Regions from separate parts of the Homo sapiens genome. Here region 2 is linked to region 1. Evidence: fine-mapped expression QTL. A gene starts in region 1. The other region holds a variant in brackets. All regions are shown on one strand. Distances are from middle to middle.

Region 1 (15,075 bases):
TAGTAAGGGCATCAGATGATGGGAGGCAGGCAGCTGTCACCTTGCTGCCTGGAGGGGAGGGCAGGTGCAGTCACACACTCTCCTCCATCTGCCAGAGGCCCAGATGCACACACCCACACCACACAGCAAGCCATGGGGGCAGGGAGGGGTGGACTCCTGCCCTGCGCAGCTGTGCCCCCATGCCATGCACATGGGTGAAGGGGACGGACGCTCTGGGCCAGGCCTGTGTGGAGGAGACACAGGTGAGTGCGATGGGAGCCCAGGATAGGACCTGGCTGGCTCCCAGGGTGGCGGAGGGACAGAGAAGCTCGGCCCTGAAACGCATGCCTTCGGGTGTGGGCTCTCAGTGGGGCTAACTGTGTAGCCAGCAATTCTGCTCCCCACCCTATCCCCTCCCCAACCCCCAGCGGAGAAACAGAGGGCTGCAGCAGGACCCCAGGCCCCTGCACCAATTCCGGAGGCAGCAGCTGGAAGCTGGGTTCCTCCTGCCCTCCTCCCCCACCCCAAGGGCCAGCCCAGATGTTGAGCGGCTTTTGCTCAGACAGCACCGGTGCCCCCGCCCTGCAAGCACACACTCAGCCCTTAAGCCAGCTGAGCCGCCAACCCTGGGCTGGGTGACGTCACCGGCAGCCAATGGGATCGCACTCTGCCGGGAGTCCTTGCTGGGGGTCATTAATCACCAGATTCCCCTTGTTGGAAACCAAAGGGAGCCGATTCTGGCCTTGGGGTGGGCGGACTCCTGGCCAGTGGCCATCCCACTTGAGTCCTCCCATGTCCCAGCTCTGAACAGGGCCTATCAGTGACCCAGACCCCTCTCAAAGCCTCCAGGGCCAAGAGCTTGTCACCCTTGTCCCCTGCGAGGCAGTAGAAGGAGGAGGTGCCGCCACCTTCACAGGTCAACAGCCCCGCTGGTCCCTCCCCAGCTGCACCTGATGGTCCTGGGCAGAATGAGCTGTCCTTCCCCAGAAGGACATTCCTGGGGGGCCACAGAGAGAATTCTGGGTCCCTGAATACTCTGCGGGCTGGGGGAAGCTGTGGGACGGGGACATGGACTGCTCACGTGTGCCTTTTGACCACCCCTCCTGTCCTCACAGCAGTGGAAGTGGACCACACAGCTGTCCCTGTCCCGTGTAGGCCAGCTGGGCTGCTCCCACTGCCATGTGGTCACACCTTGCTATTCCACTCACTGCTCCCCTCTGTGAGCCTGGGTTGGCCCTGGCCACACAGTCCTATCTGCGTGGGGAGGGCCCGGCACCTCTGTGCAGAAGCTGAGCAAGGAGGCCCTGGAGGGAGGGTAGGGAAGGGTGCTGCGGGCGGGGGTGCGGGGGATGCCCTGAGCAGGGGCAACAGGCAGCGGTGAGAGGCAAGTGCCAGGGAGGACTGCTCCACACGCCCCTGGCTGTGACCCCAAGGAGTCGAGTTTGGACTGGAAGGCAGAGGAGGGGGGTGCTGCCCGAGCTGAGGGCCCCTTAGCTGTGGACCCTGGACGTGATGCATGCCTGGTGGGCAGTGGGCTGGGTACCTGGCTGCGTGCAGCCGGCTGGATGAGCTCCGCAATGGTCACCTTGCCCTGCTGCAGCCGCCGCTTCACCAGCTTGGAGCAGCAGATGTTGACGGAGCTGAGCACATGCCAGCTGTTGTACTCCACGAAGGAGCGGCTGTCGATGACCAGCGGCCCCCCAGGCCCGCCCCGCAGCAGGCTGGCCAGCTTCTTGGCATCCATCACCTTCCTCGGGAGCCGGTCCCCAGCCATGGTGGGGCAATGGGTGCTGGGGAGGGTGACCCCTGAAGTGAGGAGGGGCTGCTCCGACGGCCCAGGTGTGGCCTCGCGCTGGGAGTGACCTAGCACATGGTGCTGGACCTGCAGGGACAGGGGGATGGTCAGCAGTGCTGCGGGCCCCTGGGTGGCACCCAGAAGCTCCCCAGGACAGATCAGAGCTGGGAGCTGCGCCCACCAGGACACACCAACATGTGCCCGTGGGAACCCTTCTCCCTCTGGAGAGACCCCGTCCAGGTCACAAGGCCAGCTCTCAGCAGGATGCAACAAGGCAGAGGGGGGCAAATGGGCCCCACAGAGAAGGGTCTGAGGGCTGGAAGAGGCCAGGGGTCCTTCCTGTGGGCCCTGGGGTTCACGGACCCTTAGGCATTCCAGAACATTCCATCTCATCCCTGGGACACAGGCATCTCCCTGCTGTGACTTCTGCATCTTTTCCACCACAGGACCCCCAGCAAGTCGGGGTCTGGACTGCACCTCACCCTCCCACATGGTCAAGCTCTCTGCCCTCCTCCGGGCTTGCTGTCCTCACACCTGCCCCTCTCTCCCTAGCACAGCCCCAGGGAGTCCAATCCCTGGAGACTTGACTCCAGGGCAGCTCCGTAAGCCGATAATCCAGCCCCTGGTGGATGGTGGCCTTGGGGCTGCCTCCACTGGAGAGTGGGCTCCCGGGGGCAGCCGGATAGCAGGCGGGTGCGGGAGGGGCTCAGGCACAGAGGCACGGCTCCTTTGCCACTGCTGCCCTCCTGACCTGCAGGCTGAGGTTTAGTGTGCGCCACGTGCCTGCTGGGGGTGAGTGCCCAGCTCCTGCAGGGGCGTGTTGCACCCACACAGTGCCTCTCCCCTAGCGGAGCCTGGGGTCTAGGAGGCTCCTTCATGGGCTGATAGGGCCCAGGATGGGAGGGGCGGGGCAGCCCTGGGAGGAGGGTCAGTGTCGGGGACCCCGCAGGTGCCAGGCCCTCGGCATGGCCTGCAAAGGCCTCAGACTGCCGGGTGGGCAGGTGGAGTAGGGATGTCTGAGGATGGAGTCTCCGGAAGCCCCTCCTGCAGGCTTGATGACAAGCCTGTCACTGCCCCACTGCCGGGCCCCATCTCCCTGTCACCTGCCAGGACTGGCCTTCCTCTGGGTCCACTTTACACTCACAGCCCCTAGGAGGCGCATAGTGTTAAGGATGATGAGTTTGCTTTAACTATGGGGAAACCGAGGCTTGGGGCAGGGTTGGGACCTGGGTCACACCTGGGTCACACACAGATGGGCACTGGGTGTCCCTGCAATGCCATCTTCCCTGTGCCCCCACAGCTGCCAGGCAGTCAGGAAGTTTACTCCACCCAGCTCAGGACTGAGGGAAGGCTGGGAGATAGATGTACCCTGGGCCCTGCGCCCTGTGCAAAGCGGGCTACGGTGGGTAGCGGGCCCTCAGCAAGCCAGACCCCCAACCCACAGCCACAGGAGGCACTGGGGGGAGGCGCCCTGAGGACACCCATGCACTGCAAACAGCAGGCTGGGGACAGAGGCCACCACCGTTTCTGGACTCTCCAGGTCAGCTCCCAGGCCGGCGGGGGCCAGTGAGAGAGTTCACAGAGCAGCAGGTGCAAGGCTGGTGTGGACCTCGTCCCTGGCCCAGCCCCAACTCCACACTGAGGGGCAGGTCCCAGCTCCTCCCTGCCCAGGAGCCCCAGCCTCGCACTCACTCTCCTTCTCCAGACACTTCAAGCTTGGCCCCTGCCTGGCCCCTCCCGCCTCGACTGGGCCCAGGCTTCTGTGCATTCCCACCATCCCTCCTGTTGCCAGAGGCCAGGGAAACACCTGACTGTGGATGGGCAGCCTCAGCTGACCCCACGGCTGACACCAGGGATTGCAGTGGCACCTGGTCAGCAGGGCCTCAGGATCCCACTCAGATAACGTTCCTGGGCTGGTGCTCCAGCCTCCACCACAGGGTGGGGAACGAGGCCTGGGAGTCCTCTCCAGGGCCAGACCCAGCAAGTTCAACAGCAAAAGGGCCTGCTGCCTGCCTGCTGTGGAGGGTCTCTGCCTGCCAAGGGGGTCCCTGACTACCCACAGGGGGTCCTTGATGAGCTGTTTGTCCTTCCCGAGTTCTACCTGAGCCTTGCACAGGTGGTGAGAGGCGAGGGCCCAGATGTGTGGTTCTGGTGAGACAGCGGCTCCAGGTGCCCCGTAGGATACCCAAGGGTCCAGCTCAGAGACCCAGAACCCCGAGAAGGCTGCAGTGGCAGGGACACTTGGGCTGGGGGTCTTTTGAGGAGCTGCCCCGGCCTCAATGTCCTCATCCGTTAAGTGGGGGTGGATTCTCTCTCACTGAAAACAACAGAAGCAAATACCCCCCAGTGCAGGGAGGAGGGCAGGTGTGAGGAGAGGCCCTCGCCCTCTCTGCAGCCAGGGCCTAGCCTTCATGCAGCCCTGAGTCCTGACACTGCCATGAGAGACCTCGGTGCAGCCAGCCAGATCTGAGACCCAGAGGGAGGGGAGGGAGGAGGGCAAGTCCAGCTGCAGGGTGGTGGGCAGGGGCTGGAGGGGCGGGAGGACGGGTCCTGGCCTTTACCTGGCCCTGCTCTGCCTCCTAAGCAACGCTGAGCTGGAGCTGGGCCTATCACCCACAATAGTATTGTTATTTGCAGCCGAAGGGGATTCATTAGCAAGTTAGCACCTCCATCGTCACCATGGCAACAGCAGAGGTGCCAGGCAACCGCTGCTCCTGCGGCAGCCACCACCATGGAGCAGGCTCCTCTGCAGAGTGGGCACGCGCCCCTCCCTGCTCTCTCCTACCCACCCCAGCAGGTGCCCGGCAGTGCAGAGCCCAGTCCTCAGCCCCTCCGCTCCTCTGCCCTACCTGGTCCTAACCTTCCTTCCCACTCCAGGTACCTGCTGTGCCCAGCATGCTCCCTGCAGCTCGCCGGCTCCCCGCCCCCTCAGAGGCCTTCTCTGTACTGCGAAGGGCTGGCCGAGTGCCCCCTCCTGCAGGAAGCCTCTGTGCCATGCTGGCCTCTGGGAGAGCATCCTCACCCACAGGGTCTCCCTGGACCTACAGCTCCCAGGGGGACATGTTCCTCACCTCTGTCTCCCCAGATGCTAAGGATCGGGGCTCAGCTATGCCAGGGATGGGGCAGGTTGGGTGGGGTGGGGAGCAGAGACACTAAGGACAGTCTGGTGCAGATCAGTGGGGCCAGCACTGGCCATGTGGGAACAGAGGTAAGGAAATGTGGATGGTGTTGGTTCCATGCCTCTCCTTTCACGGCCCCACATGCCAAGCCCTCCTGAGTACCTGTGGCCCTGCTATTCCAGTGCCTAGGGGTTGGGGGGTGAGAGGCAGGGCTGGGGACAGGATGCCCCCTAGCACAGCCCCATACACCCTTTTCAAAAGTCTTTGAGCCCAGGAGGAAGCAGTTTCCAAGTCCAAAGTCAGAAGAAGGCTCCTCCCAGGCCCACACCTTCCAGGAGGCACCAGGCCGCCACCCTCCCCTGGGACACAGCACGCCTGGCTCCAGTGCTGCGTGCACACTGCCCTCTGTGCGTGCCAGAACACACCTCTTTGCACACCCACTCCACACACAGGGCTGGTGCTCCTTACCCACAATCCACCTGCCCTGTGTGCAAGTACCCACGCGTGAATATGTGCACACGCGTGGGCTGGACATACACTAGAGTACACGCACGTCCTTGCCCTCTGTATGCAGGATCCCCTGAGAACCCCAGGACTCCAGTACCCGAGGGGTCAGCTTCAGACTCCTTACAAACACGAGCTCCCACACCCAGCGTCTCTGTGCAGCACATTCCTGTCCCTGAGCACAGACGGGACCAGGGAGTCCCAGGCCACCCCCAGCTCTCAACTGACAGCATCCTTACCATGTTACCTTCTGCTCAGCACCTAGAAATGGGGACTCACTACCTTCAGAGACAGCTGCCAGGACTGTCAAGCATGGGGGGATGGGACTGTGTCTCCCCCTCACACCTAGGCAGGCTCTTGGAGCTGTCCGGCTCACTGTTACCCAGGGATGCTTCTGGAGGCAGAAATCGTCACACTAAGGAGGCTGAGGAGAGACTGGTGGGTGGCAACTCTGGGAGGCAGGGACCCTGCACTCACACAGGTCAGCTCATCTTCCCTCACTGGGCTCCCCCAGATGCCCTCATCCCTGCCTCCCCTCAGCTCCCTTGGCTAGTGCTGTAGGACCCAAGCTGGCCTACACTCTGCTCCGCTGGCCTGGGGAAGCTGTGGACCTGGGAGAAAGTGGGGTGGGGCGGGGGGCTCCCTCCGATCCCAGGAACGGGGTCCGGGCAGGGCAGGGGATGGGAGGACTTGGCACAAGGGGCCGTGACAGTCGAGTCTCAGAGCCGGACATATCCAGGTTCCCTCCCTTCCCACCAGACCTGTGTCCCTCCTCCTGGTCACTGTGCCACATGCTAAACATCAGGACCAGTGTGGCGCTTCCAAGGTTCACTGCCCTGAGCAACTCCGGCAGAGGGGGCCTCAGCGGGTGCAGTTCTCATGGCCAGAGTCCAACCACCTCTCTCTCACTGTGGGTCTGCCCCTTTCCCTGCCTTCTGCAAGAAGTGACACCTAGGTCTCCCCAGGCCCTAGCTGATGCCCCTTCGAGGCACCTGTCCAGTGGCAGCCTCTAGGCCCTGACTTCAGCCCCAGCCTGAGAAGAGAAGGGTCCTGGAGCAGAGACTGACTCTAAGCGTCTTTCTGCACCTCTGTTAATGGGACTTTATTCCCAGAAGCCTCCCCGAGGACAGAGGATACCAGGGGAATAGAACCTGCCCAGCCACACTCGTGCAGCCCCCGGCTGGCTGCAGCAGGAGGTATTTCAGCGAGACTTCAGGATGAACTTCCAGCTGGGGTCACATGATCTGCCATCCGCATCCAGTGCTTATTAGCAGTGAATGCATGGGACTGTCCTCCTGGTGGAGGGCTGGGGCCTGGGGTGCTACATTCACCCCTGGACCGCCCTAGGTGCAACAGTGTCTCTGGGTGGGCTGTGCCAGAAGGGAGGCAAGGGAGAGTGCCGGGGTTTGGATCTCCCCTCAGACCCCCCGCTGGGGCACAAAAGGAGCTTCCCTGGCCTGCAGCACCCCACCCCCACCCCAAGCTGCACAGCAAGAGCACTGCGGAGCCACGCTACATCCTGCCACCCCCTCCTCCATCCCACAGTGTCCCCGCCCCCCATCACTGCAGCACCAGAGCCCCTATTCCCCTCAGCAGAGGCCGGTACACCCCGCAGCAGGGAGACGGAGGCAGATTCTCCCAGAAGGGGTGACCCTGTTGGGGCTGGGCCTATTGTTGCCCCCTCCCCTCCAGGCCAGACTATTAGGTATCCCCACCTGGTCTGCTCCGCATCCCAGGCTGGGCAGCTGGGCCTAGCGAGGTGGCTGCAGCAGCCTGGCTGTGCCAGCCCCTCCCCCAGCGCCGCGGCTGCCTCTGCAGCAGGCGGAAGGGCGCGGGGGCTTTATCCCTCAGGGGCCGGCTGGGCACCCCGGGATGGGGAGGCAGTGCGGCCTGGACACTGGGGGGATGGATCTGCAGCCCTCCCCCCCGACAGGGGAAGGCCCCTTCCCGGGTGTCCCAGGCCAGAGGCCGTCGCGTCCCTCCCACGGCCGAGGCTCCACACCTCCCGGACCGACTCCGGGCCAGGGTCCGCCTGCTCCGGTTCTGGCCCCCGCGGGGGTGACGTTCGGGACGTCGGGGGCTCGCGCAGATCCGCGCTGGATCTCAGGCGGCCCTGGTGGGTCCTGGATTTTTGTCCCCCCCCCATTCCACACCCAAAGAAGGAGCTGCGGGGAGAAGGGCGGCAACGCGGCGGGCGGGCGTGGGCTGGGCCCGGGTCCGCCGGGCGTTGCGGGGGGCGGGGAAGGGGCCTCCCTGTCCCTGGCGTCCTGGACGGCCGTGGCCGCTCATTCCGGGGCCGCCTCCTCCTCCCGGGCGCCCACCGGGTGCCGCTGCCCCAGCGCCCCCGACGCGGCGCCCTCCGCCCCCCGGCCCGGGCCGGTGAACCCCATCCCCGGCGCCCGCCCCCGCCCCGCCGGCGCCTCCGCTCACCTCGCTCGCGCTCGCCTCGGGGGCGCTCCGGGGACCCGCGCCGCGCTCAGGGCGCCCGCTCGGCCGCGCCGTCCATGGGCCCGGCGGGGGCCCGCGCAGCCGGGGCAGGGGCCGGGGGAGCGCGCGGGCCGCGTCGCCGTCGCCGCCGTCGCCGCCGCCAACGCCGCGGGGAGCGCTCGCTCGGGCCGGGGCGCGCGCACTGCGGGCGGGCACGCGCGCTCGCGGCGCGCATCCCAGCCCCGCGGCTCGGCGGGCGCGGCCGGGAGGTTCCGGCGCGGCTCGGGCTCGGGCTCGGGCTCGGGCTCGGGCGTCCGGCGTCCGGCGGGGCGTCGTGGGGGGAGCCGGCTCGGCCGCCGCGCTCGGCCGCGAGTGACAGGCCCGGGGCGGAGGGCGGGGCCGCCGGCGGGGATGAGGTCATGCCGAGCGAAAAAAGCCCCTGACGTCACCTGCAGCCAATCAGCGCGCGCGGCTCGGGGGCAGGTGACGTCAGCGGAGCCCGGGCTCGGGGTGAAGCTGAGGCGGCTGCCGCGGGGGGGGGGCGGGGTGCAGGGTGCGGGTGGGTCGCGCCGCCGCCGCCTTCCGCCCTCACCCCGGGACCGGCTCTTAAAGGGACCACGCGGCGTCCGGGACCCCGCCTCCAGGAAGCCCTCCCGGCCCCGGGCCCCGCGTCACCCAGGCCCCCCGTCACCCGGGCCCCCGGCCGCGTCGCACAGACCCCGGACGGTCCAGCTGAGCGGCTCCGGGCGCGAAGTCCTCCCCCCGACCCGGACAGGCGCCGGCGCCGCTCCCCCCTTCTCCTGGCCTTTGTTGGCGCTGGGCCGCCGCCGGGGAGCCCTCCCCAGACCCAGGCGCGGCGTTTTACCTGCAGCGGCTGTGCTCGCCCCGCCGCGACCCCCGCAGGACGGAGCCGGATCCCCCTGCACTCGGGCGGACCTGGGACCCTCAGAGGCGAGCCGGCTGCCTCGGGTCACACATCCGCGAACTCCGGGGGCGGGCTCCCCAGGACGCCGCCGACCCCCCACGACCCCCAGCCCTCCCGCTTCCGTGGAAAGCCGCCCCGACGACCCCTGTGCGGGCTGTTGAGGGGCCGCACCCCGCCGACCGCTGTGGGAACACCTCCGCGCGTGCGGCGGGGACGCGGCGAGTCCGGGGCAGGAAGAACGCACGGGTAATTGCACCTTCGGCAGGTGTTGGGCGGGAGCAAGGGGGTCAGACTCGCGCTGCAGGGGGAGGGCGGGGGAGGCCTCGCTGTCCTGGAGGAAGGGGACAAAGACCCCTGCCCAGGAGCCTGGGAGCCTTTGAAAGTAATGATTTTTTGGCGGGGGGGGGTTGTCACGAGACACCCTAGACATTTCTAAAAGGCCCCCTCCCCGCTGCCGGGTGGAGAGGGAGCGTGGGGGGATCCGCCTTCTGCCCCCGAGCCCCCAGCCAGCCTGGGCCCCCCAGGGTCACCCTGGGGCTCTGAAGGGGGCTTCGGCCGCTGGTTGAATGAAGGGCCACAGAAAATGAAGCTGGCGCAACGACCGCAGAACCCTCAGTGGGCACCAGGACCACGGAGCTCAGGGTGCCAATGGTGATGGCTGGGGGTGGGGAGTACTGTGGGCAGCAGGGGATGCTGAGCGGGGTTTGGGGCTCCCCCTTTCCATACTCAGTCTTCCTGCCAGCCTCAGAGCTGAGTACACCGTTGGCGATTAATAAGCGCTTGCAGCTCCCTTCCCTGGCCAGCCTGAGGGGAGCGGCAGTGGCCCGTATGGGGTGGGGGTGGCGGTGGAGTGCGTCCTGGCGCAGAGCTGGCACACAGCACAAACAAACGCCTTGGCGGGAGTGGGTCTGTCCCGGAAGGGAGCCCAGGGGTTATTGGGGTTGGGGCTGCGCCCCAAAGCGGGAGGGCCCTGCGAGAAGGGAGGCCCTGGCTGGAGGGGGACCCTGAGACTGGAGGTGCCGGACCCGGATGCGGGGCCAGGTGAGTAGGGCTGCCTGCTGCAGCCTTGCTGGGTTTGAAAAGTGGGGGAGGCTTGGCCCTGGGAGGGGGCAGGAGGATTCAGGCTGAGACCCGGAGGGGGCGAAGGAGGTCCTTGAGGAGGCAGTCACAGGCCTGAAAGGACCTGGGACCCGCAGGCATGGGAGCTGTTAGCCGTTAGATAGAGGGGCTGTCGCCTGGGGGGAAGCCTCACCTGGCTTGTTCCCCCTGCCAGGCCTAGGTGAGCCCGATGGGCGTGTCTTCTGCCCAGCTGGGATGTGGCCAGCATCTGCCTGTGGCCTGGGAGTGCCCATTGTCCCCTAAGAGCTCTGGTTATACCCTGGGCAGCTACTGGCCAGGCTGGAGCAGGTGGCAGGCAGCGACCTTTAGTCCCTCCTGGAGGCTCCCAGGGGGCGGTTTGGAGGGGAATACGGCTCCCCTGGAGGGCCTGGGCTGTCCCTGGGGGGCAGAGTGCCCTGGGCGGCGATTGTTATAATCCCCGTAGCCATTTTCATGCAAATAAGCACTGAGAGCGTTAGGTTCTGCCCCTAACCAGGCTGGCGGACTAGGGAGGTGGCACCCTGGGGAGGACGGTGGTTTTTCTGCAGCCCCGCCTTAGTTCCACGTTGCCTTTGCACCCAGCAGAGGCCGGCCTGGGCGGTGGGCTCAGGGGCCTGGGTGCCCGACCAGGTCGGCTCGGCTCAGCTCAGCTCGGCGGCCGCACCGCCTCCCGGCACAGGTGTGGACGGGGGTGGGAGGCGCGACCAGGGAGGGGGCTGCGGTGTCAGTCCCGGCCCGGGCCTGTAGACGCCGCCTCGGGGGTCTCTGGGGCTCGGGAGGACCTTGCGAGGGGCCGGGGAGGCGCCAAGGCCGCGGCGAGGGACGTGCGGGGGTCCAGCAGCCTGGGGCGGGGACGCGCGCTCCGGGCCGTGCAGGTGGGGGTCCGAGCGGGGCCGGCCCGGCGGTTCGCGCGCGCCCTCTGCCGTCCGCAGGCCGTGGCGCAGGCTCGGCCGCCTGAAGCTCCTCTCGCCTCCGGGAGGACGTCCAAGGTCGTTTCTTAAAGCATCCCTATTGCGCAGAAGGAACAGTGGGGTTCACTTTTCTCGCTAATGTGCATATAATCGTTGCAACTAATTATGTGTAGCAAACCTCCATGCCACTATTTCCCCAACTTTTTTAAGTCAAGGCATAGCTAACTCAATACAATGCCCATCCCAGCTGTTCAAGTAGACTTTTTCTCCCGTTATTTCTTTAAAAACCGTATGATTTTTTCTTGTGGTAAAATGCATGCAGGAACATACGGTGTGCCATATTAACTATTTTTAAGTGAATTTGGCAGCATTAAGTACATTCACTTTCTGTGTAACCGTCACCACCACCCATCTCTGGAGCTTTTCGTCTTGGAAAACTGGAACTCTACTCTGTCCTCATTAGACACCAACTTCCCAACCCCCTCCCCAGCCCTTGGCACCCATTATTCAAGTAGATTTTTTTTTTTTTTTGACGGAGTCTCATTCTTGTCGCCCAGGCTGGAGTGGAGTGGTACGATCTCAGCTCACTGCAACCTCCATCTCCTGGGTTCAAGCGATTCTCCTGCCTCAGCCTCCCAAGTAGCTGGGATTACAGGCGGCCACTACCATGCCCAGCTAATTTTGTGTGTTTAGTAGAGATGGGGTTTCACCATGTTGGCCAGGATGGTCTCGAACTCCTGACCTCAGGTGATCCTCCCGTCTTGGCCTCCCAAAGTGCTGGGATTACAGGCGTGAGCCACTGCACCCAGCCAGTAGATGGGTTTTGACAACTGTATATGTAGTTTTATCACCATCAAAATGAGACCTAGAAACTTTATTATCCCAGAAGTTCCCTGGTGCCCTGTCCTCACCCTCTGACCTGTCACCGTGAGTTACTGCTATCTGTTCGTACACTTTATAAAAATGGAAACAATGGAAACAAACAATGAGAGGACTTTTGCCCCTGGCATCTTTCACTCAAGGAAATACTTTTTTTTTTTTCCAGACAGAGTCTCTTTGTTCCCCCAGGTTGGAGTGGAGTGGCGCGATCTCAGCTCGCTGCAACCTCCGACTCCCGGTTTCAAGCGATTCGCCAGCCTCAGCCTCCTGAGTAGCTGGGATTACAGGCGCCCGCCACCACGCCCATCTAAATTTTGTATTTTTTAGTAGAGATTGGGTTTCACCACGTTGGCCAGGCTCGTCTCGAACTCCTGACCTCAGGTGATCTGCCCACCTTGGCCTCCCAAAGTGCTGGGATTACAGGCGTGAACCACCTTGCTTGGCCTTAAGGAAATACTTTTGAGATTCGTCCACATTGCTGCTTTCCCACAACCTGATGATAACGTCTGTGTGGTTCTGTATTTCATGGGTGTATGGCAAGAGTGGAACCAATTCTTTATTTTTTACATATTAGATTATTTTCATATTTGGGCTATAAAAAACTGCAGCAGGCCGGGCACGGTGGCTCATGCCTGTAATCCCAGCACTTTGGGAGGCCGAGGCGGGTGGATCATGAGGTCAGGAGATCGTGACCATCCTGGCTAATGTGATGAAACTCTGTCTCTACTAAAAATCCAAAAAATTAGCTGGGCGTGGTGGCGGGCGCCTGTAGTCCCAGCTACTTGGGAAGCTGAGGCAGGAGAATTGCTTGAACCCGGGAGGCGGAACTTGCAGTGAGCCGAGATCGCACCACTGCACTCCAGCCTGGGTGACAGAGCGAGACTCCATCTCAAACAAAAAACAAAAAAGAAAACAAACAAAAAAACTGCAGCAGACAGCATCCTATTGTATATGCTTAAAAAAAGAGATATGGGATCCCTCTATTTTATCCAGGCTGGACTGAACTCTTCCTGGGCCCAAGTGATCCTCCTGCTTCAGGCTTCCCGTAGCTGAGATTATAGGCACGTGCCACCACACCCAACTCTTACATGTTTGTAACACACTTCTCAGATTATTTTTCTTTCTTCCCTCTCTCTCTTTCTCCATTTCCTTCATTCCTTCCTTCTGTCCTTCTGTCCTTCCTGTCTTCCTTTTCTTTCTTGACAGGATCTCACTCTGTCACCCAGGCCAGAGGGCACTGGTGGAAATATAGCTCACAGCAGTCTCAACCTCCTGAGCTCAAGGGATCCTCCCATCACAGCCTCCTGAGTAGCTGGCACTACAGGCATGTGCCAGCATCTCCAGCTAATTAAAAAAATTTTTTTTGGCCAGGTGTGGTGGTGCGTGCCTGTAATCCTAGCTACTCGGGAGGCTGAGACACCAGAATCGCTTGAACCCAGGATGCGGAGCTTGCAGTGAGCCAAGATCGTGGCACTGTACTCCAGCCTGGGCAACGGAATGAAACTCCATCTCAGAAAAAAAAAATTTTTTTTGTAGAGATGAAGTCTCACTATGTTACCGAGGCTGGTCGCAAATTCCTGGGCTCAAGCAATCCTCCTCTCTTGGCCTTCAGCCTTCCAAAATGCTGGGATTACAGGATTATTTTCTTTCCTAGTTTTTTTTTTTTTTTTTTTGGATGGCATCTCGCTCTGTTGCCCAGGCTGGAGTACACTGGTGCGATCTCAGCTCACTGCAACCTCCACCTCCTGGGTTCAAGCGATTCTCCTGCCTCAGCCTCCTGAGTAGCTGGGATTACAGGCGCCTGCCATCATGCCCTGCTAATTTTTGTAGTTTTAGTAGAGACAGGGTTTCACCATGTTGGCCAGGCTGGTCTCGAACTCCTGACCTCAGGTGATCTGCCCGCCTCGGTCTCCCAAAGTGCTGGGATGACAGGCGTGAGCCACAGCGCCCCCTGCCCCCAACTCCCATGTCCCCAGATATTGCAAAGTTGCCCTGAGTGGAGAATTCTAATAACTTGCCAGCAGGCTAGAAGAACTCCATTTAAAACCCTTGCCAGGGCTGGGCATGGTGGCTAACACCTGTAATCCCAGCACTTTGGGAGGTTGAGGTGGGCGGATCACCTGAGGTCAGGAGCTTGAGACCAGCGTGGCCAACATGGTGAAACCCCATCTCTACTAAAAAATACAAAAATTAGCCGGGTGTGGTGGTGGGCACCTGTAATCCCAGCTGCTTAGGAGGCTGAAGCAGGAGAATCCCTTGAACCCGGGAGGTGGAGGTTGCGGTGAGCTGTGATTGTGCCATTGCACTCTAGCTTGGGCAACAAGGGCAAAACTCTGTCTCAAAATAAAATAAAATAAAACCCTTGCCAACACTTGGGATTTTATGCATTTTGATTATAGCTGCATTACTTGATGGGTTGACTAGGAGGACACTGGAGTGTCTTCTCACACAGACTCCATATTTAGTTTGAAGACGTCCTTCTATATTGCCTTATAATCTTCCCCAGGGAGGCCTTACAGTCTTCCCATTGCGTATATTACTCCTGAGCTTATGATTTCGGTTGCTTTGTGAAAGGTTATAAAAACCACAATTTCTGATGTGTTGTTGCCTGTCATGGGCTGGCTGTCGATCACCCTCTCTGACTTCTCTTACTCCTCCAAGCAGGCCGCCTGTAGGTTCACTTGGATTTCCCAGGTAGATGGCCCTATCATCTATGAATCTGCACTTTCGTTTCTTTCCAAACCTCACATTGCTTGTTTCTTGTCATATTGCATGGGCTGGCATCACCATTATAATGCTAAGTGGACATGGTGATGGTGGGAGTCTTAGCTTCCATTCCCCAGAAAGTAGCCAGATGCAAAGCTCAGTGTACACATTTTCTGGAAGGGAGGAACACACCGAGCCAGGGAGGAGGTGAAGCTGAGGCAAGGCTGCTTCTTACTCAGCTGCTGTGGCTTTTTGGAAGTTGCAGCTCAGCTGGCCACGTCTGCACACCCTCTCCCACGAGACCATACAGCGATGCTCCACCTCAGAATGGTCCACAGGGAGGAGGAAGGGAGAATAGTTTCTCTGCAAGCTCCTTCCTGTCTTCTGCTCTCATAGGTCAGAGTTGCTCTCCCGAGGAATTAAGTTCCCTGCATCTTCAGGTGGTGTTACTGGCCCCTCTTGGCAGCTGCTGGGCAGGCCAGAGTGTCTGAGGGTTTGGGGAAGCTGGCACATTGTGTGGAGTGAGAGAGAGGTTCATTAAAATTCCCAATTATTCCTATACATTCCCAATTATAGTCCCAATTGTATTTGTGGATTTATCTATTTCTTATTTTAGTTTTGTCAATGTTTGCTTTATATGTTTTAAAGCTCAGTTATTTGGCACATAGAAGTTTAGGATTGTTTTCTGTTTGGTTGCATGAACTCTCCTATCATCATGAAATGTTATCTCTT
Region 2 (15,075 bases), 110 kb before region 1:
CCAGCACGGATGCCTCCCACAGTCCCTCTTTGGCGACAACTCGCTTGCTGGGGACCTGAGATAACCCCCAGCCCCAGCTGCTGCCAGCCCCATGTCAACCAGGCACCCCAGAGGAACAGCACCAAGGGAGGCAGCTGGCTTCAGGAAGGGATGCATGCGGTTGTCTGGGACACTCAGGGCTGATGTCCTTGAGTCTGAAGTGCTAGCTGGAAGCCCAGGCAGTTTCCAGGTTGCAGCCTCGAGGGGCGTTCTTTCCCCAGGAAGACCGAACCTGGCGGATGCACCCACCCTGTGAGGAAGGGTCCCCCGCCAGACTCAACAGGCGACTGATTTAAGTTCGTCTCATCTAAAAATAGCTTCATAGCAACACCCAGACTAGTGTCCGGCCAGGCTGTGCACTGCCCACCACGTGGGTGCTGGAGTCACAGTGCAGGCCCCTCACCCCTCGTCGGCCTGGCCTCCCTGGGCCGTCAGGCATCTTTCACACATGGGACTATTTTTGCCAAATGCTGCACCCCTGGGCCGCAAAGCAGAGAGTCACGTTTGTACCATCTGTCCTGTCTCTTCATCGGGCAGAACATCGACCATGTAGAAACTCACCTGTGCTTCCAGAACTGCCAGGCTGCTTTGTGCACTTCCTGGCTCCAGGCCCTGGCATGGGGCTGGGGTAAGGTCAGGGCCAGTGGTGGCCCTCGGAGTTTTGAACCCAGAACAGACAGCCGCCGAGACCGGCAGGACACTGAGGAGGCGTCGAGGGGCTGAGTGAGGGTTGGACCTGGTCCCCGTGCTTGTCCGGCAGGACTCCCAGGCCGCACAGTGGCCGAGGAGGCAGCTCCAGGAATGGGCAAGGGAAAGGGGAGTTGTGAGGCCGCTGGGAGGGGCCTCAGAATCAGTCGGGAGAGGGCACCACTGAGCCCCAGCCCTGCTGGCCCCTCCTCCCGGTCCCTGCCTCTGCCTCTCAGCACACCTGGTTCCACCTCCAGGCAGCAACGGCAGGGGACGCCAGCAGAGCGTGCCACCTCTGAACAGCCACCCAGGCGCGCTCTGCCTGAGTCTCGGGCTGTGCTAGAGGCGCCTCTGGCCATGGTCCTCTCACGGCTGGGCTTCCTGGCCCCCGCGCTGGTGGGTGGGGTTCGGGTGCTCTTGAGCTGGAGAGCAGAGGGCCTCTGCATGTTGGGGTGAGCCTGCCAGCAAGACAGGAGTAGCCTTCTGTGGCCTCAGAAGCGCCTCCCCACTCTCCTGTTGGAAGCGAGTTGCAGGCCCCGCCTGCTCCTGGGGGTGGGGGGCACAGCTGACTTCAGGAGCCCAGCTTGAGCCACCTCTCACAGCGGCCTTGGTGAGGGGGGGCTCACCTGTGGGGGGCTCACCTGTGGAGGGGCATCCCCAGACTTGGGAGTGGGTGGCATATGGGCCAGGGTCAGGGCGTTAGGGCTTGGAGAAAGGTTAGGGTTGGGGTTGGGGTTAGAGCCACGGTGATGGTCAGGGCATATGGGCTAGGGTTAGGGCGTTGGGGTCAGGGCCATGGGTTCTGGCTAGCACTGTGGAGACAGCCGTTTCTATCACGAAGCGATGGAAGATTCCGCCGTTCCAACCCCAGATTCGAGGGAGGCAGGGGTGTGGACGGTGCCACACCTCAATCCTCACAGCCTCTGTCTCCCACTGCCCAGGCTGGCGAAGAAGTCCTGGTTTGGGAACTTCATCAGCCTGGAGAAGGAGGAGCAGATCTTCGTGGTCATCAAAGACAAACCTCTGAGCTCCATCAAGGCTGACATCGTGCACGCCTTCCTGTCGGTGAGGCCACAGGGCGCTGGGGGAGGCGGGCAGCCCTCCCAACCCCACACGGCCCAGCCCCGAGAATCCAGCCTCCTCACGTAGACAGGACATGTCCACGCGCACAGCACGGACGTCCGCTCACCCGTGGGCCTGCCTGGCCGCCTTCACTGGACAGGCGCTCTCTCCTGCCCACCCTCGTGAGGGAGGGGTCACTGCCCATCTGGGGTGCTTGGCCTGCGGAGGGAGTCAGGGCTTTGCTCACTGGTCCCCAGCAGCCCTAGGTGTGTGCCGGACAGGCCTGGGCAGCTGGCACGTGGGGCAGAAGGAAGGCTCCAGCTGGGTGGGTCTCAGAGGGGGACATTTCCATCAGACTCGGGGAGAAGCCCTTGTGAGGCCATGGCCCTAGGGACCGGTGGGGCTCTGCTGGCCCTCAGTGGACAGCCCCAGCCCTCAGGTGTCTCAGTTTCCCTGGTCTCACCCTGCCCTCGGAGGCCGGGTGGCTCTCCACAGAGTGGTCGCGCTCGGGGTCTTGGGTGGGCTTCATTTGTCTTTGCTGGGCATCTTTGGGTTAGGAGGAGCAGAAAGGCCCTAAAAGCCTCAAATGGAGAAAGTTTATTGCCAGGACTCCAGCACCCAGTCCCATCAGGACGCCCCTTCCTTGCCGGCCCTGCCCCACCCTGTGCTGCACCCAGCGCCCAGGCATCACAGGGGCTGCCCCCCACCCGCCTCCCCCACCGCCCCCAGCCTGCCTCCCCAGGGCTGCTGTCCTGCCCTGTGCTCACCACTGCCCGGGCGCCCTCCCTGGCCCCAGGGTCTTGGCAAGATCAGGCCGTGGTTCGCTTCGGCAGCCTCTCTAGCTAGGGACTGGCCCCCACCCCACCATATGCTCTGCCCCCGGGCACTCAGGCCACTGCTGCCCTGGCTGCAGCTGAGCTTCCCTTACGCTGTGGGGACAGCTTGGAGCCCCTGCAGAAGGCTCCAGGGCCAGGAGAGCCCAGCGCTGGGCAGGGCAGGCCTCAGACTGCACTTGGACCCTGGCCTCAGGGGTCCTCAGCGTCCCCGTCCCCGTCCCCACAGGCTGCTCACTTCCTCGGCCTCCTCCCTCACCACATCCCTTCATGCTGCCCCTGGTTGCCACGGCTAACCTCAGACTCAGCCCCTCCCCATGCCGGCCCCAGTGAGGCGGCTGTGTGCCAGCCTGGGCCCTGTGCGCTGGGTGGCCCTGAGTTCTGCTTCCTGCAGCTGCCCCCTCGGTACTGTGAAGCCCACCCAGCCAGTGCCCAGCACCATAGGTCCCGCAACCAGTGGGAGTCCCAGGAAGCCCCAGCAGGAGGGCACAGCCCCAGCCCCGCCCTTGCACCTCCCTCTCAGTGGCAGCTCCCAGACCCCCCACCTCCCACTCAGCTCCACCCTGGACCCCCACCTCAGGCTGCAGGGGTCACCTTCCACCTCCATCTTTGCCCTTAAGGCTCCTCTGTAAGGTCCTGGTCATCCTGTGCTGTGGCTGCCTGAGAAAAGCCCGGCAGGGGCTTAGCTGTGCCCGCTAAGTGGACCAAAGCTTTGGAGGGTGGGGGCTGGAAACGCCCCTCCCCCTGCTCCAGCCGTCTCCAACCGCACTGTGCCCCTCACGGAAGCAGAGGTGCCTGGGTGCTCACAATGTGTGCACGGTGGGGCTGGCTCGCCCCAGGGCTGCCTCCCCAGAGGGCCAGGGTGGGACCTGCCAGGCCAGCCACGCTCACGCTGCTCTCTCTCCACAGATTCCCAGTCTCAGCCACAGCGTCATCTCCCAAACGAGCTTCCGGGCCGAGTACAAGGCCACGGGGGGGCCAGCCGTGTTCCAGAAGCCGGTCAAGTTCCAGGTTGATATCACCTACACGGAGGGTGGGGAGGCGCAGAAGGAGAACGGCATCTACTCCGTCACCTTCACCCTGCTCTCAGGTGAGCTGGCGCCCCCAGGGCGGCTCCGGGCCCAGGCCCGTCCAGGGCATAACCCCCTGTCTCCCCTAGGCCCCAGCCGTCGCTTCAAGAGGGTGGTGGAGACCATCCAGGCCCAGCTGCTGAGCACACACGACCCGCCTGCGGCCCAGCACTTGTCAGGTGAGGCGGGCTCAGCTCCGGCCAACCTGCGGCCTGCGAGTGGGGCGTGGCCAGCTGGTGCTGCGCGGACGGGAGGCGTGAGGACCCGGGCGCAGCCTCCTGGCCCCTCTTGACGGACGCCCCCACCTCCCTGCCCCGAGCTGTGGCTGCACCCCTCAGGGAGCAGAGCCCCTCCCTGGCCTGGCGGGACCACCCGCCTCGCCTCTGCACGCCAGGGACATAGGGCGCAGCCGCACCACACTGAAAGGCGCCTCTTGTCCACCGTAGAACCCCCCCCACCAGCGCCAGGACTAAGCTGGGGTGCTGGGCTTAAGGGCCAGAAGGTGGCCACCAGCTACGAGAGTAGCCTCTGACGCTGGCAGGTAAGGCGCCCGGCCTGTGCTGGGGCGGGGAGGGGCTGCGGGCAGGTCCTCGGCGGAGCCAGGCTGGCCCTGAGCAGGGCCCTCCATGCCCACCCACAGGTCTCGGCCCTGGACAGGCCAAGCATGCCCCGGGCGGCCCATCTGCTAGGGCAGCCTGCACAGGACCTGGGAGAGCAGTGACAAGGCCCTGCCCTCGGGACTCCCCGCCATGGCACCCTAGGAGGGCCGCGGGCTGCCTGACGGGCTGTGACTTCTCATCTCTCCATACTTCCTGACAGCCCAGGGTCATGCCTCCAGCAGGGCAGAGGGGCTTGAGCCCAGCCAGAGCGGGGGCTTCACCACAGCCTGATGGGCTCACACAGGGGAGGGTTGCCCCAGCCTGGAACCACCAGGGTCTAGGACCCGAGGGTCCGTGCCACTCGGCATACGGCAGGGAGGGCTCCCCCCACTCCCCTGGGCCCATGTGTGGTGGGGGCAGGGCGGAGCACTGGGCACATGCATGGGCCTGGTCTGTCAGCAAGGGGGTGTGGGTGTGCCTCTGAACGCTGGTACGGCGTGGGGGCGCTGGGCGTCGTGGGGGAGCACCCGGCTGGACCCTGGGGGTCCCCTCTCCCAGCCTGCATCTCAGCAGCTCCGTGGCATGCTAGGGTCACCTCCTGTGTTTCCATGTGGGGTCCTGGAAGCCAAAGAGGGCCCCACTGCCCCTCCCCATGACATCCTCATTCCATCATCATGCCATCACCTGTGGGAGCCCCCCCAGAGTGTGCTTCACCTTGCTGCGGGCTGGGGGCTGAGGTCCCCAACAGCCCTGGCCCTAACCGAAGCCCCAGTGGGTGGAGGAGTAGCCCCCTTCTCCTGATTTTGGGAGCCAGGCTGGCACAGCGGGTAAGGAGGAGCAGGGTTCCAGGTGCTCGGCCCCGCAGGTACACGTGGCGCTTCCCTACAGCGGAGGCCATGCCGTCGGCCGGCAGCAGCCTCTGGCTCTCTGAGCCTTGAAAGCCTTCATCTTAGGAAGGGAAACCGAGGCCAGGGAACGACAGGGCAGCCACCTAGGCCAGGGATGGACAGGGCTTGTCTGGTAGGGCAAGCAGAAACGGGCCCCGGGGTACTGCCCAGGGTGTCCCCGCACCTGAGCAGCCATCTGGGTGCCTCAGTCGAGCGCTCCTGCGTGGGCTGTAGGCAAAGCTCCCCCAGCCTGGCCCCTTAAAGTGTGGTACCGCCTGTCAGCACGCAGCACTCCCCTGGAGCCAACTCCAAGCCCCTCTCCATTCCTGCCCCGGACCCTGACCTCAGTGGAGCCCACTGCAGAGGCTCTTGGGGGTCTATTCTGGGCCCCATCTATCTCCCTGTGGACTTGGGGAGCCCAGCCTATCCCCGTGATCTCGCTACGCCCAGCCCTTCCCAGCCCTGCCCCCCTCCCACACTGGATGCTTTTGTCCAGTGAGCCCAGCTCCAAGGATGTGTGGAAGGTGGCTAGCCAGCAGGGGGCCTCCTCAGACACTGCCCACCCCCCCAGAGACTGCGGCCGAGGGAGGGGAGGCTGAGAGCCCCCAGTGAGCAGGCACAGGCAGACCAGGGCGTGTGTCCACCCTGTGCAGGCGCCAGTGAGGGCCTTGAGGGAGTAGCCCCTCCCAGGGCCTTGCTCCCACCCCAGTCCTGGACTGGCAGCACCAACATCCCCAGGCCCAGCAGTAGGGAAGAGGGCCGAGGAAGAGGGTGCCTGCCTTGAGTTGAAGGGCAGCCGGAAGCCACAGGGCCCTGGAGCTGCTGAGTGGCACAGTGAGGATGCAGGCCACGGCCAGGGCAGAGTTGTCAGCCCAGGGGAGGGGCTAGGCCCACCCAGGGCACCGGCCATATCCAGGCTCAGGCTCAGGCTGCTGGAGGTCCGGCTGCTGCCCAGGTGGCTCCGCCTTGTTCCCTGCCTCCGCAGCCCCGCCTCACTCCAGGCCCTGCCCCTGCACTGCCCCTTATAAGCCCCGCCCCCTCTGGCTCTGGCCCCCCCAGTATTCCCCACCCATGCCTCTGGGGCCCTACCCACTCCTGGCTCCACCCCCTCCCCATCGAGGCTGTGGGCGTCCAGCCAGAAGGCCCAGGACAGCCTTTCACTCACTCCCTCCCTCCTCTCTCCATTCTGTACTCCAGACACCACTAACTGTATGGAAATGATGACGGGGCGGCTTTCCAAATGTGGTAAGAATCCCCCACGCTCACCTGGCACCTCCACCTGCCACTTCACCGCTCACCCTCAGCCCGCTGTGGCCGCCACCTGCCGCCCGGGTTGTCCCGGCCTCCCTGTGTAGATGTAGGCACCCAGCAGCCCAGATGTCCCCGGCCCCATCCTCTACCAGGAGCAGCCCAGGTCGCTCCCCTACCACAGCAAGCCCAGGCGGGGTTCCTGGCCAGACTCACCTCTGCCAGGCCCTAGGATCAGGGCAGGCCCAAGAAGGGGCTCCCAAGGCCTGAAGCCAGTGAGGGTCCCGCTGGTCCCACTGGTGCAGGCTGTGGCCTAGGGGAGGGGCCGGTGCCCATCCCTCTGTCCACTGGAGGCTGTGCCTGGCAGGGAGCGGAGGGGCCCACAGCTCAGGGCTCAGGTGGGGGTTAGGCTTAGGAAGTGGGATTGAGGGGCCTCCATCGACACACCTGGGCAGTGAGCACAGGGCCCCAAGAAGGGTGGGCTCCCCATTTCCGCCCCTCTTCTCAGGACTGCCCCCATCCCAGGGACCCGGGACATGACTCTAGCTGCTTGCCCCCAGCCCCCCAGCCTGCCTCCCACATCCACCCCTCCATGCTTGTCCACCCATCTGTTCATCTGTCTGTCTGCTGCTAAACTGTGTCCAAGCTGGCCAGGGGTCGGGCTTCAGGCCTCTCTGGGGAGGTGTGGTGGGCACACCCTCTCCCTGTCATCCACTGGGCCTCATGCAGTGGGGCCAGCAGCTGCCCCCAGGGTCCTGCGAGGCTTCAGAGCTCCCAGCAGGCCCTTGTCTTTACGCTGTCATCTCCGGCGTTGGGGTGGGTCGGCCCTCACGGCTGCAAGGTGGGGAGGGAAGGGGGGTGGGGCAGGGCCTTCCGGGCCAGGCCTTGGTGGGGAGGGAGGGGTCTCACCACCTGCCCCGAGCCTCGCTTCGCCAAAGGAGCACTGGGTCCTGCGCAACAGCTCGGAGGCGCTGGGGTCCTAAGTTCCTGGCCCCACGGCGCACAGCTTCCCCACCGCACAGCCCCCAGCGTACAGGGCCCCTGCCGGCCGCCGCCTGCCCACCCTGCTTGCCGCCCACCGGTCCCCGCTCGGCCCCATCTCAGCCTCATCTCTGGGTTCTTTCCCTCGTCGAGGCCTCTTCGTTCATTTGTTTGTTTGTTCTCTTTCTCTCTCCTTCCCTCCCCTCCTCTTTCTCTCCCCCTTTTTTTTCTTTTTTCCTTTTTTTTTTTTTTTTTGTCTCTGTTCTGTGTACCCAGGCAGCCCATTGAGTAACTTCTTTGACGTAATTAAACAACTTTTTTCAGACGAGAAGAACGGGCAGGCGGCCCAGGCCCCCAGCACGCCCGCCAAGCGGAGTGCCCACGGCCCACTCGGTGACTCCGCGGCCGCTGGCCCTGGCCCCGGAGGGGACGCCGAGTACCCAACGGGCAAGGACACGGCCAAGATGGGCCCGCCCACCGCCCGCCGCGAGCAGCCTTAGACACACTAGCCCCCCCCCCCAGCACAGCACTGACAGCGGCTGCCTCGCCGCCCGCCGCCCGCCCTGCCCCGAGTGGACCCGCGGCC[G/T]CGCCGCCCGTCCGTCCAGACTGTTCTCAGAGCCTGGGAGGAAAGGAAAGGGGCGTTGGGGCCGGCCTGTGGGCTGCGCCACCCGCGCCCGCTCTCTTTTCTCTCTGTCTCTGCCTCTGCCTGTCTCTGACAGCATCGCTTGTTTCCACTCTGATACCAGGAATTATCCCGAAAAGTTAACATGTCACCTCCACGAGGCCATCCTCTGTGACCGAAGGCAGCTGCTGCGGACCCGCCCTCCCTCCGCTCCTGCTGTTGCTGCCGGGCAGTGAGGCCCAGCCCAGCGCCCCGTCCACCCCGCGGCAGCTCCTCGCCTCAGCTCCGCACGGCCCGTGGGAGGAAGGCCAGGCTCGGGGGAGCCTCCTCCAGCCCGGCCGACCCGGACTCCCGGTCACCTGACCCCTCAGCAAGAACAGCCTGCCTGGTGGCCTTCTGGGGCCAGGACCCCTGGTGGGCAACGTAGCCACAGGAACAGGCCCCGTCCACCGCCTCCACGCCGCACCTGGAGGCCTCCTCGCAGGCCCGTGCCCCGCCTCCCTGGCTGCGCCGCCTCCGTGTAGTCTTGGCCTCCTCAGGCTGCCTCCCGTCCTCTCGTCTCACCCGCGCCTCCCTTGCCTCATCTGGGGCGGCTGTGGGCTCTGGCGCTCCTCTCTGGCTGAGGTGGAAACAGAGACACCCTGCGGCACCAGAGCCTTCCCAGCAGGCCAGGCCGCTGGGCTGGGATCAGTGTTATTTATTTGCCGTTTTAATTTATGGATTCTCCGCACCTCTGTTCAGGGAAGGGCGGCGGCCACATCCCCTGCCGTCTGCGTGTCTCAGGCAGTGGGGGGGCTGGGGCCAGGGCGCCCTCTGAGGACAGAGCTGGTGGGGCGCGGGGGGGCTGGCGAGCTACTGTAAACTTTAAAGAATTCCTGCAAGATATTTTTATAAACTTTTTTTTCTTGGTGGTTTTTGGAAAAGGGTGTGGGGGTGGGGGCGCCGCTGGGGCAGGGCCAGGTTTTGTGTTTTAGTCCCTTGCTCCTGCTTCTTTCTACACACACATCTAAAGACGGTGCGGCTCGCTCTGTCATGGGTTCCGTCTCTCTGTGGAGAAGCAGCTCCACCTCTGGGGGGGCTCGGGGCAGAGGGGCGGTGTCTTGTAGCGGGCGGCAGCGCCAGCGCCCCTCTGTCAGGCTGGGGCAATCTTGGTTTTGTGTCCAAAGGTGAAGGGGTAGGAGGAGGGCCCTCAGCTGGCCCTCCCCACACACAGGACGGCAGGGGCACTGTGAGGCTTTTCTTATTAAAATGAAAAAATTGAAAAAAAAGGACAAAGAGTCGGTGGCGCTCCTCTGCAGGGCGTTCTGTGCAGAGCGAGGCCCAGGGCGCAGCCCTCAGAGGGCTGCAGGCCCACCCTGCCCAGTGCCCGCCGCCGTGCTTCACCCCAGCTCCAGCTTCTGTGTTCCCTTCCGCCCATGTGCCCAGCCCTCCCAGGCGGGCACAGCCCGGGTGCGGCGGCCGTGGGGGACGGCGGGTCTGATGCATGCCTCTGCCATGGAGTCGTCTGTCTGCTTCGGTGCCTGCCCCTGCCTCCCACCCACCTCGTGTATAGATTTTAACGCTTCTGTTAACATTAGACCTCTGCCACAGGCTGGGATTTCTATACATAAGAACAAAAGCAAACACCTAGGACAGCAAACGCCAGGCGGTACAGGCGGGAAGGGGCTCTCCACGGAGATCGAGGACACGAAGCAAACTGCCTCTTGCTTGCCTTCCCCTTTTGTGCTTCGGACACACGCGGACTCCAGCAGGCGCCACGGAAATGGGCAAGCCCCTGCAGTGTACCCCTGTCATAACTGTGAGCAGCTGCAGCTCCGGAACAATAAATCCCTTCCGCAAAGACAGCGACGCAGGTCTTCATCTGGGCAGGGCGGGCGCGCAGGGCTCTGTGACAGCCCGGGACAGCTTCTTGTTCCCCACTTGCAGCCCCTGGGCTGCGCCAGTGTGAATGCAGCTACCCTCTGCCCAGCTGAAGAGGGTGAGATTCCGGGCGGCCAAGGTCAGAGGTCACTTCCGATGTGTGGGGCCATCCCCCGAGGCTGCCCCAGCCTGAGGCGGGCTCCCGTTGAGGGCCAGGGCCTGGGCGGAGCTCTCTTTGCACGGCACCTCTGCCACCCCACAAGGCCTGCACGGCCACCCAGGGCCTGGGCCTTTTCCTGGAGAATGAGCCTTCTTCCCACTCCTTACTTGGGAAGGGTCCGGATAGGGTGCCATGACCCAGCCTTGGGAGTGAGGGGCCCAGGCTGAGCACAGCCCCTGGAGCTAGAGCGGGGATGGTCCCAGCCATACCTGCCACAGAGGGCAGCCAGGGCCGTGGGCTCCACTGGCACGACGCCCTGGCCCAGCTGCCCCTCTGCCGCCGCAGCAGAAGGGCAAGTCCAGGCCCATGCTGTGTGAGGCCAGTGGCCGGGAGTCCACCGCGGCCTGGAGGAGGCCAGCAGCAGGCCTCAGCAGGGTCCACGCAGAGACTGCGGCGTCCACAGAGCTGCCCTGGGAGGCCCACGCACACTTCCCTCCCACGTGAAGGACTCAGATGCGCCGGACTGCACCCAGCTGTCTATCATTGGAGCAGGTGCTAAGCACATGGCTGAGGGGGGAGATGATGATGGGGTGGGGGCCACATCCCTGGTCTCAGCCCAACAGAAGCTAGTAGCTGTCCCACCTCCATTGTGACAAAACGTCCCCAGACATTGCCATGAGTCTCCTGGTAGGGGACAGAATCACCCCCAGGTGAGAGCCACTGCCCTGAACTTCAAGCTGTGCCTGTACCCATCTCTCTGGAGGGAGCCAGGGGGTCACCATGTTAGTCAGGCTTAGTTAGCTCAGGGCTCCGCTCAGAGCCCAGGACACAGAGGGAAGCTGAGCCGTCCTCTGTTTGACCCTGGACTGCCAAGTGGCTGAGCTCACAGGAGGTTGGTACCCTGAAGAGAAGGCACTTGGGAGGGGCCCAGGGAATCAGGATCCATTCCAATCCCTGGATTACAGTTTCCCAGTTCATTTTACCTTAAGAAACAGGCTGAGGAAAGGAATTTGGCTGCTACGGTTCAGTGAGGCACAGGACAGTCTGTGGGGTCGCAGGCTACTGGCCCTGGACCGGAAGCCTTCCTGACCTGTGGTCCTGCACCTGCTTCTCTGAGAGCGGCTGACACACGCACTCCTGGCCCTCCTCTAAACATTCACGGTGAGAAGTCAGCCTTCTCAGGCCCATGACTGGAGGCCCAAAAGGAAACAGTGTGTCAAGAGTCCTGCCAGCTCCCCACTGCTCAGGAAGGGGCTGTGTCCTGCAGTCCCACTTCTGACACCAAGCTCTCTTGGTTGTAAGTAACAGAACCCAAAGCGAGCTAAGCCAGAATCTGCTGGTTTATATAAAAAATGAAAACAAATATGGCAGGACTTCTGATGTGGCAGACACTAGTCTCACTTTACACCAGTCGGTCCTCACATCATTTCTATGAAGAAATTAAAATGGAGATTGAAAAAGGATGTGGTGGCCGGTCTGCCCACCTAGAGGATGGCTTCACAGTCCTGGTCCTCAGTTCCCAGGTGGCTAATCCGACGGACACATCTGGGCTCAGAGCCTGCCACGGCCTGGCCTGAGAGCTAGGGCCCTGGTGAACGAGCCGACTGGTGAGCCCACCCATGGGATGGCAGGTGGGTGGCGGGGGACGACAGTCTGACCCACCTCCTGTACAGGATGCAGGTGGGAGGTGGGTGCTCCAGGGAGGGGCCCTGCACACAGCAGTCCAGGCCTAGGTCTGCTCCATGGGGAGCCTGCCCTGGGCTTTTCCGTCAGCTGAAGGCAGAGGCACAGAGCCCCAGCCTCCTAAGCTATAAGATGGAACAATTCCTGGTGTCACAAAGCCTCAGAGCTTGCAGGAGGCTGATGCCCGCATGCCAGCTTCAAGGTGGGGCGTTCCAGCTGCCCTGCTCCCATCCCGCCAGGGAGCTCACCACAGGTGGACTGGCCCTGCCTCCCCGTCCTGCCTGCCTCCTGCCCTCCAGTGGTGTGGTGCCCAGGCCCTCTGCCCTAAGTCCAGTGCCTCCCCACTCACTCCAGTGACTTCTCCCCATCCCACCCCAACTCCCTACCACCAACCCAAGTCTCTTGGTGTGATCTGGCAAGGGGTCGGGGTCAGCAGAGAGCCAGAGAGGAGGAGGCCAGCAACAGGAGGGAGAACCAGTGGCGACTTTCCAGGCAGCGGGGCCTGCTGGAGAGCGGGCAGGGCTGACAGACGTGCAGGGAACACTACCCGGGGAGCCACGTTCGTGCCAGCCAGACTGGCACAGTCTACACTGTGGGTCTCATGCCGGGGAGTTGGGCCCTCTTGTGCACCTGCCCCCAGGACCCTGTAAGAACGCCTTGGCCTGCTTGGTAGATGCATTGTCTCCTGTGGTTTCCTATCACCGCCATAGTTACCGCAAAGTAAGAAGCTTAAAACACCAATACCTCACAGTCCCAGAGTCAAGGACTGGGCAGGTCTCACTCAAGGGGTGCCCTGGTCTAGAATCAAGGTGTGCTCCTCCTGGAGGCTCCAGGGGAGGACCTGTGGCCGCCTGCATCCCGTGGCCTGGGGTCTCCACCTTCGCAGCCAGGAGCGTGGGTGGAGCCTCCTCACAGCTGTGTCCTGCGCATCCCAACCTGCGTCCAGCTTCCACGATGAAGGCCTCGTGCTCTCACTGGGCCCAGACCATCTCTGCCTCTCAAGGTCAGCTGATTGCCTTAATCCCATCGCTGCTTTCATTCCCCTTTGCTGCTGGGTGGCACGTTCACTTCCATGGGACTAGATGTGGACATCACCAGTGGTAAGGGATGTCTCAGGCCGAACGCAGTACCCTCCCACTCCCGCTGCTTCACACCCATCCCACGTGCAAATGCATCCCTCCCCTCACGGCCCCAACAGTCTCCACCAAACACAGCACCCAGTCCAGTCCCAAACCTCACGTACAGCTCATCAGCTCACAAGTCGCAAGTCGCACCCTCTAAGCTACCCCGATCAGGTATGGGTGACACTCTGGGCATTCCACCCTGGGGCAGTTTCCTCTCCATCTGTGGACCCCGAAAGCTAGAAAACCAGTTACCTGCTCCCAAAATACGACCAGAGAACAGACGCGGAATGCCAGTCACAGACACTCCTGTTTTCAAGGAAAGTTTGGCTGGGTGTGACGGTCCAGCACTTTGGGAGGCTGAGACAGAAAGGATCACCTGAGTCCAGGGGTTCAAGACCAGCCTGGGTAGTGAAACTTCAACTCTACAAAATATTTCAAAATCAGCCGGGCGTGGTGGCTCGCACCTGTGGTGCTGGCTACTCAGGAGTCTGAAGGGGGAGGACCCCTTGAGCCCGGAAGTCTGAGGCTGCAGTGAGCTAGGATTACCCAGCACTCCAGTTTGGGTGACGGTGAAACCCAGTCATTTATATGTGCATACACACACACACACACGTGACACACAGAGAAAGCTGCAAGGTGCTTGTGTCGCTGCTCCCAAGAAATCCAAAATCCAGCTGGGTACACTTCCTCCGTCCCAGCAAGGCCTGGGAACTCCTTCTGTGGGTCCCAACTCTGCCTCTGTGCTGACACCTCCACCCTCAGGGCCATGCTCTCTATTTATGAAACGTAGCAAGTGTTTGCAGCTGAACAGTTTAGTCTGCTTCCTGCCTGCTGATTTTTGGGGCTCAAGAGCCTTTCATCACATCCCCTCTGCCTCAGTCCAAGCCAGCTGAGTTTCTGATGGTTTAAGAGCCTCTCGTGGTTCCCACAGGGCTTCACCGGATCCGTAAGACCCAAGGCTCGTCCACAGACCCAAGGCTCGTCCACAGACCTCCCACAGCGGTCCCTGCTTTGAGCATCTGCTTGGGTGACCCGGGGCATCCACCAGCCACAGGCTCGCCCTCCTCCAGGAGCTCTTGGTGTGGCCGTTACTCTGAGCACACATTCCTGACAGTGAATCTCCTGACATCAGCATCTTCAGCTGAGAATTCCCGATGGCAGGGTGCTCACCCCTCTGCTAATGTCCTTCTCTCACTTAGTGGCCAACCTGAGCAGCGCAAGGGGCCCAGGCTGACCACCCTCGAGTGCTGCCCGCACGTGGCAACGGGACAGAGTGCAGCTGCACCTCTGCCCCCATGGACGGGGCTCTCCCTGGCTCCCGTTCTTTCCTTTCCCTCTGAGCTCCCACCTGCACCTTTAACCCCACATGTCCGAGGACGGGCGGGTCAGAGGGGCTCTGACTCTTCTCAGAGCCCAGGCTGGTTCCTCCGAGCCCCTCGAGCCCCGCTCGCCTCCATCCTTCTACCACCTGTTTAACAACATCACGGGCTTTTTCTATCACCCTCAAAATTCTTTCAGCCCAATTCCAAAGCCACTTCCACCTTTCTAGGTATTTGCTACAGCAGTGCCTCATGCCTAGAACCAAAATCTGCCTTCATCTCCTGTTGCTGCAGTTGCCATGAACTTCGTGGCTGGAGGCAAAATGAACTTACCTCAAACGGACCTCACCGGGCTAGTCTGCAGGGCCAGTTCTTTCTGGGTGCCTTCCTTTCCCAGCTTCTAGGAGCTGCCTGCACTGCTGACTCAGGCCCTTCCCACGCCGCGCTGTCTTCCTCCGCTGCCTCCCTGCTCAGTGCCCTTGGCTCTCCTGACAACACTGGGCCCATCCAGATAACCTCCCCTTCCTCAGGTCAGTGACCGGGAACCTGATTCCATCTGCAGCTTCCATCCTGCTGTGCTATCTAAGGAGACAGTCTCTTAGGATTAGGACACGGATCTCTTTTGGAGACCATCATTCTGCCTTTCAGAACACAGACCATAGATAGAGACTTAGTGAGCCATGGCTGCAGCTGGGGGCGAGGCTGAGCCCTCAACACTGAGACCCCCCTCAGTGTACAGGCCTCCTGTTCACGGAGGGAAACGGAGGCAGAGGCAGGAAGGCTTGACCAGGACTCCAGGTCTTACAGCAAGAACCCATCCCAGTGGAGGACAGCGCACAGCACAGTCCCCTCAGCCCAGGAGAGGGACAGGTCCACCAGACAATGGCCTAGCAGCAGGCGC

Evidence for each region. PIP is the estimated chance that this variant, and not a neighbour inherited with it, causes the effect.
Region 2: its variant is fine-mapped to the expression of DUSP8 in whole blood (TOPMed, PIP 0.93).

Annotation. Positions count from the first base shown.
Region 1 is chr11:1,564,074-1,579,148 of GRCh38, forward strand. It overlaps DUSP8 (dual specificity phosphatase 8), which reads right to left and starts at 8,198. Exons shown (of 7, transcript NM_004420.3): 1 at 7,828-8,198; 2 at 1,523-1,861. The coding sequence starts at 1,753. It overlaps KRTAP5-AS1 (KRTAP5-1/KRTAP5-2 antisense RNA 1), which reads left to right and starts at 8,668. Exons shown (of 2, transcript NR_021489.2): 1 at 8,668-8,995. RefSeq lists enhancers at 2,920-3,858, 3,859-4,797, 4,798-5,736, 7,252-7,799, 8,348-8,893.
Region 2 is chr11:1,452,818-1,467,892 of GRCh38, forward strand. BRSK2 (BR serine/threonine kinase 2) reads left to right here. Exons shown (of 20, transcript NM_001256627.2): 16 at 1,668-1,791; 17 at 3,531-3,711; 18 at 3,781-3,870; 19 at 6,375-6,422; 20 at 7,683-9,872. The coding sequence ends at 7,906. Among named protein-coding and RNA genes, the nearest start is that of MOB2, 26 kb to the right of the region's middle. RefSeq lists enhancers at 202-911, 5,163-5,725. The variant G/T (reference allele first, on the strand shown) is at 7,993.